2 separate regions of the Homo sapiens genome follow, and region 1 is linked to region 2. Evidence: fine-mapped QTL for protein levels in blood plasma. Region 2 holds a variant in brackets. A gene starts in the other region. All regions are shown on their forward strands.

Region 1 (8,522 bases), not on the chromosome of region 2:
GCAGGAAGATGGGTCAAGAGTCTTCATCTGATGAGGGCCAGGGACTTTCCAACTCCCTCAACCCTTCCCCCAGGCTCTTTTCCCACCCTCACATTGAGCCCTCTTCACTCTGATAGTTGGGCCCCCTAGGACTTTTATTCTGAAAGAGCCAAGGCCCCTGGAGGTGGAGAGGAGGCCAGAGGCTGGAGCTGGCCTTGACCCTGAGCCAGCTCCACCCTTCTGGGCTGTTTTCCAAGGCAGCAACTCTGGGACCCTTGCTGTCCTCAGCTCTCCTCTTTATCTCTGGTCTCCAGCCTTGCTGGCCTTTGAGCAGAGGGTCCCTATAGCCAGGACTGCTGGGCTTCTCCCTCCTATGCCTTCACACCCCTGTATTACTGTCTTTTATTCCTTGACCTCACATCCTCCGTCTACTTCCTTTTTCAGCTTTTTCTGGCTTTCTTGCTGCTTGCCCTTCCCAAAGCAGACACGGAGGACAGGTCACCATTTAGAAGCTCCCCGCCTCCCCAAGCACTGGACAAAGGTCTTACCCCATTCCATCCCTCATTCCCAACACATAGGATGGAAGTATCAAATGGCCAGATGCCTTCAGATGTCAGAACCGTGGAGTCCGTTGAACCCTGTGTGTGGGGGGCTGTGTCTTGGGCCTGGTTTTGTTGAGCACATGAGACTTTCTCAAGGATAAGGACAAAGAAATGGACAAAAAGACTCTGCCAGTAGCCCCTGTTTAAACTCTTGAACCCCAGTCACAGTTTTCCAGAAGTCCATCAGGATAGAATTTTCACTAATCGCCAAATGCCCAAAGCTTAGTTCTTTCTTAGAAGGAAAAGAAGAGGTCAAATGGACAGGAGAGAGCGGAGATTGGTTGTTCTCAGGGGCTCCTTCCCTTTGCCTGCTTCTTTCATTTGGGACGCCAGACCTTGACCTGGAAGTGAGGTCACTATTGGGCAGTGGAGTGTGAGAAAGGACTTTGGCCTGGGGGCTGCAAGTTACAGATTAACACGGGGAGGGGTGAGGAGGGACCCAGAGGGAGGAAAGGTGGCCAGAGGAAGGGACAGCTGACCTGGCACAATCTGGGCTTGAAGGGGGCACAACAAGAGCGTCTGTGAGCTGGTGCTGTCTGGAGGGATCTTGGCTCCTCTCCGGCTATCTGACCTTCCTGAAGACCTGCTCGCACACTGCATCCCTTGCAGTCAGTTCCTGGGGAGAGAGGGGAAGTGAGGGGGAGAGAGAAAGAGGGCGTTTGCCAGCCAGAGCCCCTTTCTCAAGGTCCTTGACCTCCATTTACTCCTTCCGGATACAGCAGCTTGAGTGTTTGATGTATGGGCAATTGTATCATTATTCCACATCCTCAACTTTCCACCCCTCAGGAAGGAAGGTGGCTGGGTCAGGGGATGTGAGTGGCTGAAGCCTCCATCTCGCCAGTGATGATTTATGGGCATTCATCCGACTCGTAGCCAGGGCCCACCTTGGCCACTCTGTTTCTTCCTCTCCCCACTCCTCCCAGTGCTTTTGCTTTCCCTCCCTGGTCAATTCCTTGGATAGGGATTGGGGCTGGGCTGGGGGAAGAGTGGTGGACCTATCTGGTTTGGACAAGGGGATGCCTTATAGCTGGAGGCCCTTCTCCCAGACACCCAGCCCCCACCCCATTTACCAGATACAGCATCTCTCCCTCCAGCCAGTGTCTCCAGCCCCGGTTGGGGACCTCCCCTTTCTGCACACACACCAGGTGCTCCTCCTCCCAGGTTACTATGGTCTATAGGGGAAAGAGGGAGTAAAGAAAGATTAGGAGGCAGGACACTCAAAATGCTTCCCATCTCACTCTGAATGGGCTCCCCCTTTTACTCCACAGCAGATACTGTCTGCTGCAGCCCCTCCACTGAGCGAGGGAGCTGCTCTGATTCAGCAGGACTCCCTTTCCACCCTACTCTTTGTTTTTTGTGTTTTTTTGAGACAAGTTCTTGCTCTGTCACCCAGGCTGGAGTGCAGTGGCAGGATCTCGGCTCACTGCAACCTCTGCCTCCTGGGTTCAAGTGAATCTCATGCCTCAGCTACCAGAGTAGCTGGGATTACAGGCGTGCACCAACATACCGGGTTAATTTTTGTATTTTTAGTAGAGACAGGGTTTCTCCATGTTGGCCAGGCTGGACTTAAACTCCTGAGCTCAAGTGATCCGCCCGCCACCGCTTCCTAAAGTGCTGTGACTATAGGCATGAACCATCACACCCAGCTTTCCACTCCTAAAGGTCACCGAGGGGGGCCCAAAGTTGTCTACAGTGACCTTTAGGGGAGAGCAGGGGTGGTAGCAGGATAAGTAGAGGTGAAATTGGGGAGGGCATTTATGAAGAATGGAGACTTTTTCCTCTGGATACTTCTGGCTGACCTAGAGGGACTTTTGAGAAAAAAGAGAGATTGGTTGGGAATCCTACCAGGTAATCTCATTTCTCCTCTTTCTCGGTTTCAAGAACAGCTGAAGTATCCTTAGAAATAAAGGGTCAGCCCCTCTGGGCCTGAGCATTCCAATCAACCTTTATTGAGTTCTCCTTTAGGATAGGCCCCAAACAAGGAGCTCAGAGTCTTGAAGAGATAGAGGATCAGTAAATAGGTAACTGTGACACCAGGCAAGAGTGAGGGATGGCAGTGGGGCGGGCAGAGTGAAATCTTTAAGGAAGTTGGGAGTTAATTAGATTGGAGAGAATGGGAAATTTCTAGCAAGGAAAGAAACAGCTAGAAATAGCGGTAAAAGAGAAAGGCAATTAGTTCTGAAGGGCTCTAACCTAGAGTATATGTGGTGGAGGCAATTGAAGAGTTGATTCACAGAGACCCTTGTATGCTGAGTTAAGTGTAACAGATGATGTAATGTAATAGATCATCACTGAAAGGGTGTAAGTCAGAGAGTGACATGATCACATTTATGTTTTAAGTAGACCCTGTGGCTACAGCATGCAGATTAGAGGAGGGTTAAGCGTGAGAACCAGCTGGGTGCAGTGGCTTAGGCCCGTAATCTCAGCATTTGGGAGGCTGAGGCGGGAGAATCACTTGAAGTCAAGAGTTTGAGACCAGCCTGGGCAACACAGTGAGACCCCACCTCTACCAAAAAAAAAAAAACACAAAAACACAAAAAAGCAATTTCAGGCACCAGGAAATGAAGGCCTGAATTAGGGTGGTGATAGAGAAAGGTTAGGAGGGAACACAGGAGAGCCATTTAGAAGAGTGATGCTCAACAGAAATAAAATGGGTCAGGAGCCATATTAGAAAAGTAAAGAGAAATAGGGGAAATTAATTTAAATAATATATTTTAGTTAACCAAAAATATTCAAAATATTATTATTTCGGCATGCAGCCAATATAAACATTTCCGAAATGCTTCTTTTTATTTGGCATTGTCTGAAAGTCCACTTACAGCATCTAGATTTGGACTAGTTATATTTCAAGTATTCAACGGCCATCTGAAGTTAGCAGCTGCTATACTGGGTAATGCAGAAAAGCTACAAAGATTTCTTGGCCGATTAGATGTGGTGGTGGTGGTGGTGGTGGTGTGTGTGTGTGTGTGTGTGTGTGTGTGTGTGTGTGTGTGTGTGTGTGCTGGGAGCCTAGAGGTAAGGAAACAAGAGATATTGACCATGACTCCCAGGTCTCTGGCCTGGCTGGTTATTGCCATTAGTGGAGAGAGTAGATATAAAAGTGGGGTAGGTTTGGATAGGAAGACAGTGAATTTGAATTTGACCTTGGCATTCAAATGGAAATTGGTTCCAGGACCCCCACCTCACTAAATCTGCTGAATAAAATGGCTTAGTATCTGTAGAGAAACTACATACATCCCCCTGTGTACTTTATTATTATCATTTTGATACAGAGTCTTGCTCTGTCACCCAGACTAGAATGCAATGGCATGATCTTGGCTCACTGCAACCTCTGGCTCCCGGGTTCAAGTAATTCTCCTGCCTCAGCCTCCCAAGTAGCTGGGATTACAGGCATGCGCCACCATGCCCGGCTAATTTTTGTACTTTTGTATTTTTTTTTTTTTTTTTTTTTGAGATAGAATTTCGCTCTTGTTGCCCAGGCTGGAGTGCAGTGGTGCGATCTTGGCTCACTGCAACCTCTGCCTCCCAGGTTCAAGTGATTCTTCTGCCTCAGCCTCCTGAGTAGCTGGGATTACAGGCATGCGCCACCATGCCTGCCTAATTTTTTGTATTTTTAGTAGAGATGGGGTTTCTCCATGTTGGTCAGGCTGGTCTCGAACTCTTGACCTCAGGTGATCCGCCCGCCTTGGCCTCCCAAAGTACTGGGATTACAGGTGTGAGCCACTGCACCTGGCCTAATTTATGTATTTTTAGTAGAGATGAGGTTTCACCATGTTGGCCAGGCTGGTCTTGAACTCCTGGCCTCAAGTGATCTGCCTGCCTCAGCCTCCCAAAGTCTTGGGATTATGGGTGTGAGCCACCACGCCCAGCCTTTTCCCATATGCTTTAAATCATCTCTAGATTACTTATAATACCTAATGCAATGTACATGCTCTGTAAATAGTTGCTATACTGTATTGTTTTTTATTTGTATCATTTTGTATTGTTATTTTTTATTTTTATTTTTCCCAAATATTTTTCCATTTGCAGTTTGCTGAAGCTGTGGATGCAGAACCCATGAATATGGAGGGCCAACTGTATTTTGTAGGCAGTTGAAAACATTGCCCTGGAGCTCAGGAGATGGCTCTGGCTGGAGAATTCATGCCAAGGGCAGCCTATAGATGGAAGCAGAAGGCATGGGTGTAGATGATTTAGCCTATGGATAGTGGGCAGACAAAAGGGAGAAGACATTAAGAACAAAACTCTGCGGAGAAAACTCCAGTTTAAAGGATTAATAGGAGGACTAGGATCTGCAAAGGAGGCTAAGAAGGAATATGTAAGAAGTAGAAAGAAATGCAGGAGAGTGAAGTTATTGATGCTAAAGTAAAAGGGACTCTGGGTGACCAACAGTGTCACAGGCTGGAGGGTGGGCAAATGTTTGCTCTTCGGTCTGGGTTGGCCTGTTCTTTGCCCTTTGGGCTGGTGATAAGAGGGGGCAGGGAAGAAGTGGGAGAGAGACAGGGAGCACCAGGACCTGTTAGTTCTGGAGACTGGTATCCTGGGGACTGCATTCCCTGCTGTGGTGACCATTCCCCTCCTCCCCGCTGCTCTGGCTGGGGAAGGTCACTTTGTTTTGCCCCATGTTGTTAGGAGTCTCCTGTGATGCCTCCTTCCGGCCACCGCCCAGCCAGGGGAAATGTACCTGGCATTTTCGTCCGTCCACGCTCCTGAGGTCCTCCTCAAACTCCACTCCCACATCAAACTGCACAGTGTAGTTTCGGAAGGTGCTGAGCGTCCTCACCGTCATGTGGTTGCCCTGGTGTTCGATCTCCTTGTCCGGCTTCAGCAGCAGCGCGATCTTCCGCACAGCCAAGCTGATGTCTGTGGGGGCTGCCTGTTAGTAGGGGTGCTGCTAGCCAGCCAGGAGCTCCTCTGCCTGCAGCAGCCCCTCAGGGCTGTGAGTTTCCCTTCTTTGGGTCTGGGACTGTGGATTCACCCCCTCCTACCAATGCCTGGTTAGAAATGGATCCCAGGTCTGGTGCCAGCCGCCTGAGCCTTTCCACAGTGTCCAACCCCGGGCATTCCCTCTTCTCCATGGGACCAAGAAGCAGGAAGGAAGAGGGGAGAAAGGGAGTGACAGGGGTCTGGGAGGGCGAGGCCATTACTTAGGGCTTGCAGGTAGTCCTCCATGTTCTTCTGCGAGACAAAGCGGTAGTAGCCAGTGAGGTTGGGAGGCATTGTGTGGATGAAGGTTTCAGGAGAATGCAGGAGACAGGGTGAGGAAGGAGGGGGTGTTGTCTGGCAGGTGAGGCTGAGAGATTCCAGCCAGCTCCACACACAGAGACAGGATGTGTAATGGCCGGGTTACCAGGGCTTTTTATAAGGCTGGGGCCCTGTTGCAATAAGAGTCCCTACCAGACTTCTTCCCTCCCCGCATGGTGAGTTTGGGGGTGGTGTCTCCAGCCTGAAGGAGGGGCAGGGATTTGGCAAAGTTGCGCCTGACCTTGGCTTTTCCTGAGGAAGGAACCTGGAGCAGGATCCTTCCTGAGGAAGGAACCTGGAGCAGGATCTGGGGCTGTCAGTCATCCAAAACTCAGCCATCCAAAGGTCAGTGTTGGCCTCCACCTCATTTCTGGCAGGCTTGGGAACCGTCCCAGGGCCTGAGGGGCAGTCTTTCCTGGGAGACACCTGAGGCTGGTCTGGCTGTGTGAGGTGGAGATGAGTTCCAACAATATCCTGAGATCCTGGGACTGAGTGATGTTGGAAGATGTGAGGGGAGGGGGTGAGGATGGCCAGCTGCCACCATGAAGAGCACCCTGTAGGCCTGGCTCTCAGAGCTCCCTCAGGTAGTGTGCTCAACTGGGACCCCAAAGTGGCATTCCAGACTCTTGGTCCTAAAGAGCCATTAGGAGGGAGGTGGAGCCCGAGGGGTGCTGAGTTCAAAGTCCGGAACAGACAGCCTGAGAGGAGTTTGTTGGCTATTCTGGAGAATTTTATTCTTTTTGGCTTGGGACCCAGGGGGTTTTCTCTCCCTCTGAGTCATCGATGAGACCGTAACCCCCAGTCCCCAGCCCTAGGACAGCCCATGCTTTCCAGATGTATTTCTGTGAAGGTGGGGTGGAGGCGCCTAAATAATATTGTGCCCCGCCCCCAGCTGCCCAATTCTCTCTCGAACCTGCCATCGTCCCGGGCTTCAGAATCCACTGGGCTTGGTTCATCATGGTTTAAGGTGAAATTCGGGGCGAAGGAGGCAGGACAGGTAGGCAGGAGGAGGCGGCCGGTCCCGACAGGTGCGTGCGCGAGGGGTGCACGACGTCCTGCCCCTCCTTGGGTCCCAGAGCCTCGATACCGCCCTGCGGACCGCCCTGTGGCTTCCTCGCAGCCCTGGGCTACAAATGCCAGGATTTCTCAGGCTCAGACTGAGGGTTTTACTTCACCCTTCCCAGAGGGCACGCAGCACGGATCTGTGGATGGAAGGGGCTGTGGAAACAGGTTATGGCAGAGTTGGGGGGCGGGGTGACGCGGTGCCACCCCTCCTGGCCGCCCTCAGGTCCCGCTGACGTCTCTCTTCCCCACCCCCTGGCTTCTGGCTTCTTTCTCCCCACGTCCCTCTTCTTTCCCACCCCCTCCGTGGCTCTCCAGCTTCCTCCCCAGCCCCCGCAGTTCCTCGGCTCCCCCAAAATTGCAGCCAGGGGAAGGAGCCTTGAAACTCTCCAGCCCCGACGCCCCAGTCTCATTGGCTCCCTCCCCCGCTGCAGCACCTGGTCCCCCCCCCTCCCAGTCACCTGATTGGCCGGCGGCCCCATCAATCGTTGCCCGGCTGTGCTGACGTCATCCTGCAGTAGCGGGGTTGGGGTGGGAGTGAGAGAGTGAGGACGCTGGGCTGGGGGAAACGGGAAGCCGCTGCAAGTCCACCGCCTCAGCTACCCAGATTGGGATCTGCCCAGGCCCGCTTTATGGACTAGTGTGGGCGGCAGGCTCCTTTCCGTCCCTGCCCTGCTGTACCCCGCTCCTTGGAGACCCCCTGTATCCCTCCCGCAAGGTGGAATCCGCAGGCTGGAGGCTCCCAGGGGAGGCAAACGCCTGGCCCTGCCCTGCCCCACGCCGCACCATGACCCTCCTGCTGCTGCCCCTTCTGCTGGCCTCTCTGCTCGCGTCCTGCTCCTGTAACAAAGGTGAGTGAGGTGGGGGTGGGGGTACCGAAAGAGGGGCGTCGGGCAGCGCCGTGCGGGGTGGGGGTGGGAAGGAGGTGTCGAGGCTCCCTGGCACCTGACAGGTGTCTGGCCCTCTTCTGATCACCCTCCTTCCCATCCGTTCTCAGACCTGCTCCGTCTCCTCTCTTTCTCTTCCCCCAGCTACATCTTCCTTTCTGGTCCATCTCTACCCATGCGTTTCTCTTGCTGGTCATCTTGCTCCCATTTGGTCTCCATTCCCGTCCTGGGGTCTCTATTCTCCCCTTCCCCTAATTTCTACACGCTGGTGGCTACCTCGGGTCTGGGAAGGACTGCCCCCGAGCCGGTGATAGGCCTCTCCCCGCGGCTCTCCCTTTCACTGGCGCATGCTAAGGGTGTGTGGCAGATCCATCTGCTTCGCCTCCATCCCATCCTGGGGAGAAAGTATTTGCTGCAGTTCAGCAATTCGGAGCACGTATGTTTTTTGCGTGTGCCTCTGCATTCAGACCCTTTTGCCTGCATCAGCTGGGCTGTGGGTTACCAGAGCTGCCCTCTCTGGCAGACAGCGGATACATTCAGCTGGGCGGGGCTGTCGGACAGACGGAGAGGGAGGACGGGAGGGAGGGCTTGCGGGCAGAGGGCTCAGGTAGGTGGAAACGGATGGAGACTGGCAGGAAAGGGCAGAAGTGGGTGTGTGGGGGGCGCTAAATGAGTATGAGAGGGAAAGCTGAGAAGGAGAAGACCGGAGATGAGGCGTGGGAGGGGGTAAGGAGGGGATGGAAAAGGGTAA
Region 2 (8,000 bases):
TTTTATACAAAAATCTAAACCAGTTTTAGAGGCATTTTAACAAGAAAAAATATATTCAAATTAATATGGGAAATTTGATCATATTAAATAACTAGTTCAATATTTTTATACTTGAAAAATGAAAACACAGAATTTACTCATCTCAAATTTCAAAATTTTATTTTGAAATTTCAAAGTTAAAGACAAAGGATATTAAGTCAGAAAAATGAATCACTTTTCCTAACACTAGAAATCCAAACTCTTCCTTTTTCTCTTTTTCTTTTTTTTCTTTTTTGAGGAAGACCTATTTCTTATTTTCTGAAAGTCCCAATATCACCAAAGAACAGAGAACAAGAAAGAAACACTGGTTATAATGTTTAAATCTTGACCATAGAAGGACAAAGGTCACCACTACACATCATATGTCTTTCCTGACTGGGAATTCTAGTAGAAAAAAGAAAGCCAGTAACAACTACAGCCAGTTCAGATATCTACAAGTAGATCCTATCTACTGGCTGGACACCTGTGTTATACTTAAATGACTTGCAATACTTACCTGTGCTATACAGACAAAGGAAATTGAAAAAAAAATTACCGTAAAATTGCTAGATATTTAAAACCCTTACTCAAATGGAAAAACAAGTAAAATACTTAATTTAAAACGCCACCTTTGTTTTTCAAGTACAATAAAGGAGAATCAAAGCAGTTTTGCTAACGAAACAGAACTACCACAAAAAAAAAATCACAGAAAAAAATTATTCCAAATTTAGCAAATTTGCATAGAGAATAGACAACATGTGTAGGAGACAGACATTTGAAAAAGTGTTTAAAATGAAAGCAAAGTGAACATCAAACGATTAAGGGACTTGTGATACATCCATGCCATTAATTGTGCTGAAATCAGGTAAACAATCATTAAATATCTTCTTAGGCATAAATAACATCCAGAAATCATTAGTTTCCTCCGAAAATATGCTGGATTAACAATACAGAGCCGTCATCAACAGCATACCCACACCAAGCCAGTAGGAAAAAAAAAAATCATTAGCATATTTTCTAGTTTGAAACACAAAATTATCATCAAATGATACAACAACAGTTGGAAATTTAAAATGCTATGGTCTAGTCCCAATATAATTAAATATAACAATGGGACAATTTTTTTTAGCAATCTCCACATCAAATTTCGCTTCTATGAAAAAAAAAGCATTTAGTCGCACCCACAGAGAAATTATGAGAAAAAATGTGGAGTATTACTAGACCCAATTAAGCACATTTCAACAATAAAGTAAATGTGTTTGTTAGGGGAGCAGACATCCATGTAGAAATCTCAGCTCTTAGTCAAAGTTGTCAGGGAGAAAGAATGCTTATTTAGAAAAACCTAGCACTTTGGTCTTTTGCTCTCAAAAGCTCAATTGTAAATATTTCTCACATCCTGCAAAATAAGCGAATAAAGAAATTTCAAAAGATAATTCTTTTTTGGGATAAATGGTCTCTTCAGTGATTGTTCAGTATGCAATCTCTAAAGACAAGCCTAGTTTAATGATCCTCAAAACTAATACTGTTAAAACTTGAACACACTACTATCGTATTACTTGAGGCTCATTCCCAGTACAGATATTAAATTAAAATATATGATATTATTAGAAAATGTTTGGTCAAAATATCCCCAGTTATATTGAACATATAAAGGAATTATGGTGTATTTTCAATGCCAGGCTAATTATTGAATTGAAATAAATTATATGAATAGATGTCTTTTCAGAGAAAGAACCAATTTAAAATCCAACTAACAGGTATTTGAAAGGCCAATGAAACCCTACCCTAATGGCACTTTCAAGTATATTACTTTAAAATTACGTGTATAAATGTGAAAACCTGACAACCTATTTGGTATTATTATTCTGCCATTGAGAAACTACATAAAGCCTAAGCTCTAAATTTTCAGTTATATAAAATTCAAAATATATGATTAGTCTACTTTTTTTTATAAAAAGCTAAACCAGAAACATACAAGTGTTGATCAATCTATAATATTCTGTCCTTGTTCATTAAGTAAATCCAATTAAATAGAAATTAATTTATAGGTTAGACCACTGTCTCATAATATTATACATTTACTTTCAAATATGAGTGACGCTACATAATAGCATGCTAAAACAGAAATGTATTCACATTTACTAAAATATTCAGGATATGACTAAGTTTTTTAAATGCCCCCAAAAGCCATCATAGCTTTAAAACAGAAAAAGTAAATAGTAGTTAAATCTGTTGTAAAACTTTCACACAAATATATATAAGTATATATGTTAGGGGAATTAAAAGTATTTACGTCCTAAATTTCAAAATTTCAAAACTTCTTTGGCTACAAACTAGCCTCTATATTTTAATAACAAATTATGTCAACTCTCATGATATAAAAAAGTAACATTATTATTAAAATTAAATGCTTGAACAAGAAAAAAGGTTTACAAAAATTTATTGCATCCAAATAGTTAACCATTTGCAATAATACACTATCGCTTCATAAACACCAACACTGAAAATGTATTACAATACTGCTAAAAAGACAAAGCATATAAGATTTATACACAATTTACACACAATTGTGTACAAATTTACATACAATTACAATATGCTGTCTACCAAAATACAACCTACTCAAAAATTAGGAAGTTAGAAAAATAATTCTAAGACTTAATCGTGATCTGCAAATGAATTTTTTAAGTTGCTTAGTGCATATTCAAATATGCTCAAATATATAATCTATACTAAAATAGTGCAAGAAAGTATTTGTATCCCCATCATGACTACATAACCCATGGGTATTAGATACCTCTTTGGTATAGTGAATATTAAACAAGTTAATAAATTGTATATTTTATAAAAACAAATTAAACTGAGTATAGAAAGACATGCTCAAGATAAAATTCAATTCTTCTCAAAAGTACTCAACAGGGTTGTATTTTTTAATCACAAATTCAAGGTGGAATTAAAGATACTTTCCAATAAAATACTTGCCAGTTACAGAGAGATACGATCAGGTAACTTAAAAGTTGAAAATGATATTTATATTTTGACAAGCTCTAACACACACAAAAAAATTATACCTTAACAACACTCTTATTTGGTGGTTAAATATGAAATTAAAGTAAATCATTCACAGTTAAATTAAGATATAGAATGTTTAAAACATTATTAGCCTTTGAGTAACATCTGAGGCCTCATGATGTATAGAAAATCAAATAGCAAATATAAATGAAGAAAAATTAAAGCATCTTAAAAAAGAGTAAAATTTTAAATGCTTTCAGTATCTGGCTGTGATGATATAATGTAAAATCCCTGATGAATAAATTGTATGCCCTTATCACTCCATTCTGGAACCTACCACCTATCCCATAAAATAAATGGATATACATTTTTTAATTTAAAAAAGTAGGCAAGCAGAATCTGAATATTTGTGTCCACAATTAAGCTCTATTCAAAACTGTAAAATAAAACTGTTCATTCACCTTAATAAAAACATTCTTCTGTTAATTAGCAGAATGCTGACCTTTGAAACAGAGAAACCTAACAGCATCAGCAAGATA[C/T]AAAAGAGCGAAACTAACAGCTGAACCCAGGGCATTTACTAAGTCAGTTAATTTCTTACAAAATTATGACAGAAAATTACATGTATATTTTTATGTTTTCTTAATGTTAGAACTTACTATTAGGAATAAATGAATGGTTAATGTAGTGCTCTTTAATGAAATCATCTCAAATCTATCATGGATTTTTTGGTACTAGAATTACAGAAAATTTCGCCCAACTTTTTCTTCTTAAATATAGTAAATTTTTGACAAAAAGTAAAGTCACTTGCCCATGATGACACAGACAGTTGTTAAAAATGTTAGAAATCAGATACCCTTATGCCCATTATTCCAAAATTCCATGCACTATACCATGCTGTCTTCTTGTTGAAGATTATGAGCATGGGGTATGCTATTGTCCAGGAAGTGTTTAAAAGTTATGTTGAAACATTATAGCTATAGTCTTTAATACTGTTGTTTTCCTTATTCTTCACTACACTGATAGTGTCTTTTTTTTTCTTCACCCAGCCACCCCTTACTTAAGTATATCTGTATAGGCTACACTGTTGACATTTAAACCTATTAAGTCTTATTAAAGTAAATGCTCTCATACCGTGTATTTCTATTTTATTTGAAAACTGGTTAAACTCTAACTCAGTCTAGATACCTTGTAAACTGACACTTATTTTGAAAGCAATTTCTTAATCTTAAATATCTGAGTAATCTCTCTTTTTGTTTCTTCTCAACAGGCCTTAATAAATAGGACCACCATATTGGATGGCAATTAACAATAGTCAAATATAGAGGAGATGTCTGTTGTTACCAATTTACTGAGATATGATTTACTTTCATCAATAATCTGTCAAAATAAATTATTCCAAAAAAATTACTGCAGTTTACATAGCAACATAAAATTGACAGTTCTGTATTTATAACACACCCTATGCTAGGTGTGTAAATAATGATATTACTTTCTCTTAAGGTTTCTGAGTTTTAGCCCATTTTCTGGCCTTTCTTTCAAACTTGCAGGAAGACTGTGAGCGAGTCTTTCTAAGGCAGGCACTCCTGGTTTTTACAACCTGCTTGCTGTTCCGTTGCTGCTGTTTGTGCCCATGCCTAGGGTGTGTTATAATCTTTTTAAAGTCCTTACAGATGGAATCATACCTATTCTCAGGATCATTGTCGTCATCATCATCATCCACTGTGACAGGCACTGATTTAGATAAGGCTTCATCTCCTTGAGGGAAAAAAGTGTACTTAAAATTAGCTTTAAATAAGCTATATAATTAAAACCATGTAAAATAAAACTGAAAGCCAAAAACTTTAAAGCAAACTAAGTGGGGTCTAAACTCTGGACTCCAAAATATGAGTAAAAAGCATTCTTATAGAAAACATAACAGGTTATTTGTGAAGTGCCAGCAGTAAAATGATAAATAGCTGGACCTTATATATTTCAGAGTTCCTTCCCAGGGCACAAGGCTTTTAAAGTCCACCCTTCTCAGTAACAATTCTGTATCAACAGCCATCATATTAGCATAAGTTTCTTGCCACAATAACCTTCGTACTGGTCCATTTTAATTTTGACGTTAACTGGTGCTGTATCTTCGAGGAATAGCAAAAACAGTATTAATATTTTGGTAGTAGCAAGTAATTTTAAAATGCAGTTGAATGTGTATGGTATTTGTGACCTGAGTTACCCAGAGATACAGTTCAGTACAGTAAAACTTATTTTCTTATAAAAAGCTGCATTTCTATATTTTGATTAAAAATCTAAAGAGGGCCGGGTGAGGTGGCGCACGCCTGTAATCCCAGCACTTTGGGAAGCCAAGGCAAGCGGATCACCTGAGGTCAGGAGTTCCAGACCAGCCTGGCCAACATGGCAAAATCCCGTCTCTACTAAAAACACAAAAATTAACCAGCCATGGTGGTGTGTGCCTGTAATCCCAGCTACTAGGGAGGCTGAGGCAGGAGAATCACTTGAACCTGGGAGGCGGAGGTTTCAGTAAGCCAAGATCGCACCACGGCACTCCAGCCTGGGTAACAACTCTCTCAAAAAAAAAAAAAAAATCTAAAGAGGTTAAGATTTGGGCATTTCATTCTATATAAATTTTACTTCAAAAGAAAAACTGAAATATTAAACTGTAGGTTAATACTATGCATGCTTAAGTGTTTCAGGAGAAGTATGCTGATGTCTACCGTTTAATCTGAAATGCATCAAAGATTTTAAGGGTATTATACTAAGTGAAAAAAGCCAATCTCAAAAGGTTATATACTTCATGATTCCATTTCAAAATAGCAAAATTACAGTGATAAAGAACAGATTACTAGTTGCCAGATGTCAGGAATGGAGGTAAGGACAGCAGTATCACAAGGGAGCCTTGTGATAATGGAACTGGTTTGATATATCGGTTGTGGTGGTGATTATACAAAGATACACACGTGGTACAACTGCACTGAACTATACTTATACACACACAAATGAGTGCATGTGAAACTGGTGAAATCTGAATAAATCTTCAGTTTTCTGGTTTTGACACTGTACTAGAGTTACAAGATATTACCCTTGAGGGAAACTAAGTAAAGGTTATCTGAGACCTCCCTGTATTTTTTTTTTTTTTTACAAATTTCTGTGGATTTATAATTATGCAAAATAAAAAGCTAAAAAGGCAAAAAAAAGATATACTGATGGATAGACAGAAGGATATATAGATATGTTATCAAGAAAATACAGTATAATATTAATGGTAGATGCTTTGGTGTATACTTAAATGTTTTTCACAATAAAATGTTGAAGGGAAATGGAGGAAAAAATCTATAAAGGAAACAGACACCTACAGGCTCAGGATAGAAATACACTAAATAAGGCCAGGCGTGGTGGCTCAAGCTTGTAATGCCAGCATTTTGAGAGGCTGAGGCAGGCGGATCACTTGAGGTCAGGAGCTCGAGGCCAGCCTGGCCAACATGGAGAAACCCTGTCTCTACTGAAAATACAAAAATTAGCCAATGTGGTGGCATGCACCTGTAATCTCAGCTACCCAGGAGCCTGAGGCATGAGAATCGCTTGAACCCGGAAGGCAGAGGTTGCAGTGAGCAGGGATTGCAGTGAGCCGAGATTGCACCACTGCACTCCAGCCTGGGTGGCAGAGTGAGACTTCAACTCAAAAAAAAAAAAAAGAGACAGACAGAGAGAGAGAAGAGATTTCATAATATCCCAGCAAACTCACAATAAATATCTCATTCAAACAGACCAATCTTCAAATGAAATATAATTAGTAACAGTACTGTCACTCCCTCTTTACTACACCTTTCAAAATTTGACCTATCCTTTGAAGTTCAAATGCCAACTATTCTTCTAAATATTTCCCCAAATATTTAAGTAGTTCACTTGCCATTTATTGTGTAGCCCCATTATAGTTTGTTGTGTTTGTTGCTGTTTCTGTTTTGAGACGGAGTCTCGCTCTGTCGCCCAGGCTCAAGTGCAGTGGCGCGATCGTGGCTCACTGCAATCTCCATCTCCTGGGTTCAAGCGATTCTCCTGCCTCAGCCTCCCAAGTAGCTGGGATTACAGGTGTGCGCCACTACACCTGGCTAATTTTTTTGTATTTTTAGTAGAGATGGGGTTTCACCATGTTGGCCAGGCTGGTTTTGAACTACTGACCTCAGATAATCCACCCACCTTGGCCTCCCAAAGTGCTGGGATTACAGGCCCCATTCTAGTTTTATATCTTTCTTCTGTTACTTTTTTTAATGATTTCTCTATGTCTGTCTTGCATTAAACTGCAATCTCCTAGGACCATGTTCTTCATCTTGGTTATTCATGCCATTACCAAGCCCCAATTTCTAGGAAAATACTGTAGCTGTAATATGATACCCAAATACTGCGAATAAACTGGAATCCTCTAAACTCAATAGGGGGCAGGGTTTTTCTTTTAACCTTCTAAAACTGTGACCTAAAATTAAGTTAGACAGAGGAGTACATAAATTCAGCATGCTTACATAAGCATGTAAGTAAATTCTGAAGGAATATCATAACACTGGCTCACACGCAAACTTATCTTTAAAAACAGAACTTTTTACAGCGCTTATTTTCAAGGCACTCATATTCTATTCTACTTGTTTCTATTGACAAGGCCCAATTTTTCACAGGTTAAATTCCCTAACAAATTTATCTTCTTTCTTATTTCATCCCAAATAATCAGCTTAGCCCCCAAAAATATCCAGGGTAAAGAAAATCTCAACAAGGCTTATTTCACCAAGCAGTTGAAGGATTGGAATTTGCTGAAGTGACGAATTCTCAAAGTTTCTCTTGATACACACCTGAGAAAAAGTTTACTCCCCATCAGCCTATTTGTCCTTCAGATCAAAGTTAAATAAATCAAAATGGAACACAGTGATCTAGATCAGTGCTGAGATAAGTAATTATCAAGAGATGCATCAATTGAGTATTTGCCA

Direction of the effects. Positions count from the first base shown, and alleles are read on the strand shown. Strength reflects both the effect of a copy and how common the allele is.
For the plasma level of the protein whose gene starts at base 7,394 in region 1, C is the high allele of the variant in region 2 and T is the other (strong association).

The links. PIP is the chance, under the fine-mapping model, that this variant and not a neighbour inherited with it causes the effect. The UK Biobank Pharma Proteomics Project read protein levels with antibody pairs (Olink). The fine-mapping took linkage between variants from a reference panel, not from the people measured, so its PIPs are less certain.
Region 1: CLSTN3 starts here. The variant in region 2 is fine-mapped to the plasma level of the CLSTN3 protein (UK Biobank, PIP above 0.99).

The regions. Positions count from the first base shown.
Region 1 is chr12:7,122,978-7,131,499 of GRCh38, forward strand. CLSTN3 (calsyntenin 3) reads left to right here and starts at 7,394. Exons shown (of 18, transcript NM_014718.4): 1 at 7,394-7,735. The coding sequence starts at 7,672. RBP5 (retinol binding protein 5) reads right to left here and starts at 5,912. Exons shown (of 4, transcript NM_031491.4): 1 at 5,726-5,912; 2 at 5,263-5,441; 3 at 1,652-1,753; 4 at 709-1,197. The coding sequence starts at 5,798. The coding sequence ends at 1,144. RefSeq lists silencers at 7,151-7,250, 8,341-8,410 and an enhancer at 7,692-8,193.
Region 2 is chrX:77,671,514-77,679,513 of GRCh38, forward strand. It overlaps ATRX (ATRX chromatin remodeler), which reads right to left. Exons shown (of 35, transcript NM_000489.6): 10 at 4,713-4,785. Among named protein-coding and RNA genes, the nearest start is that of ATRX, 110 kb to the right of the region's middle. The variant C/T (reference allele first, on the strand shown) is at 3,570.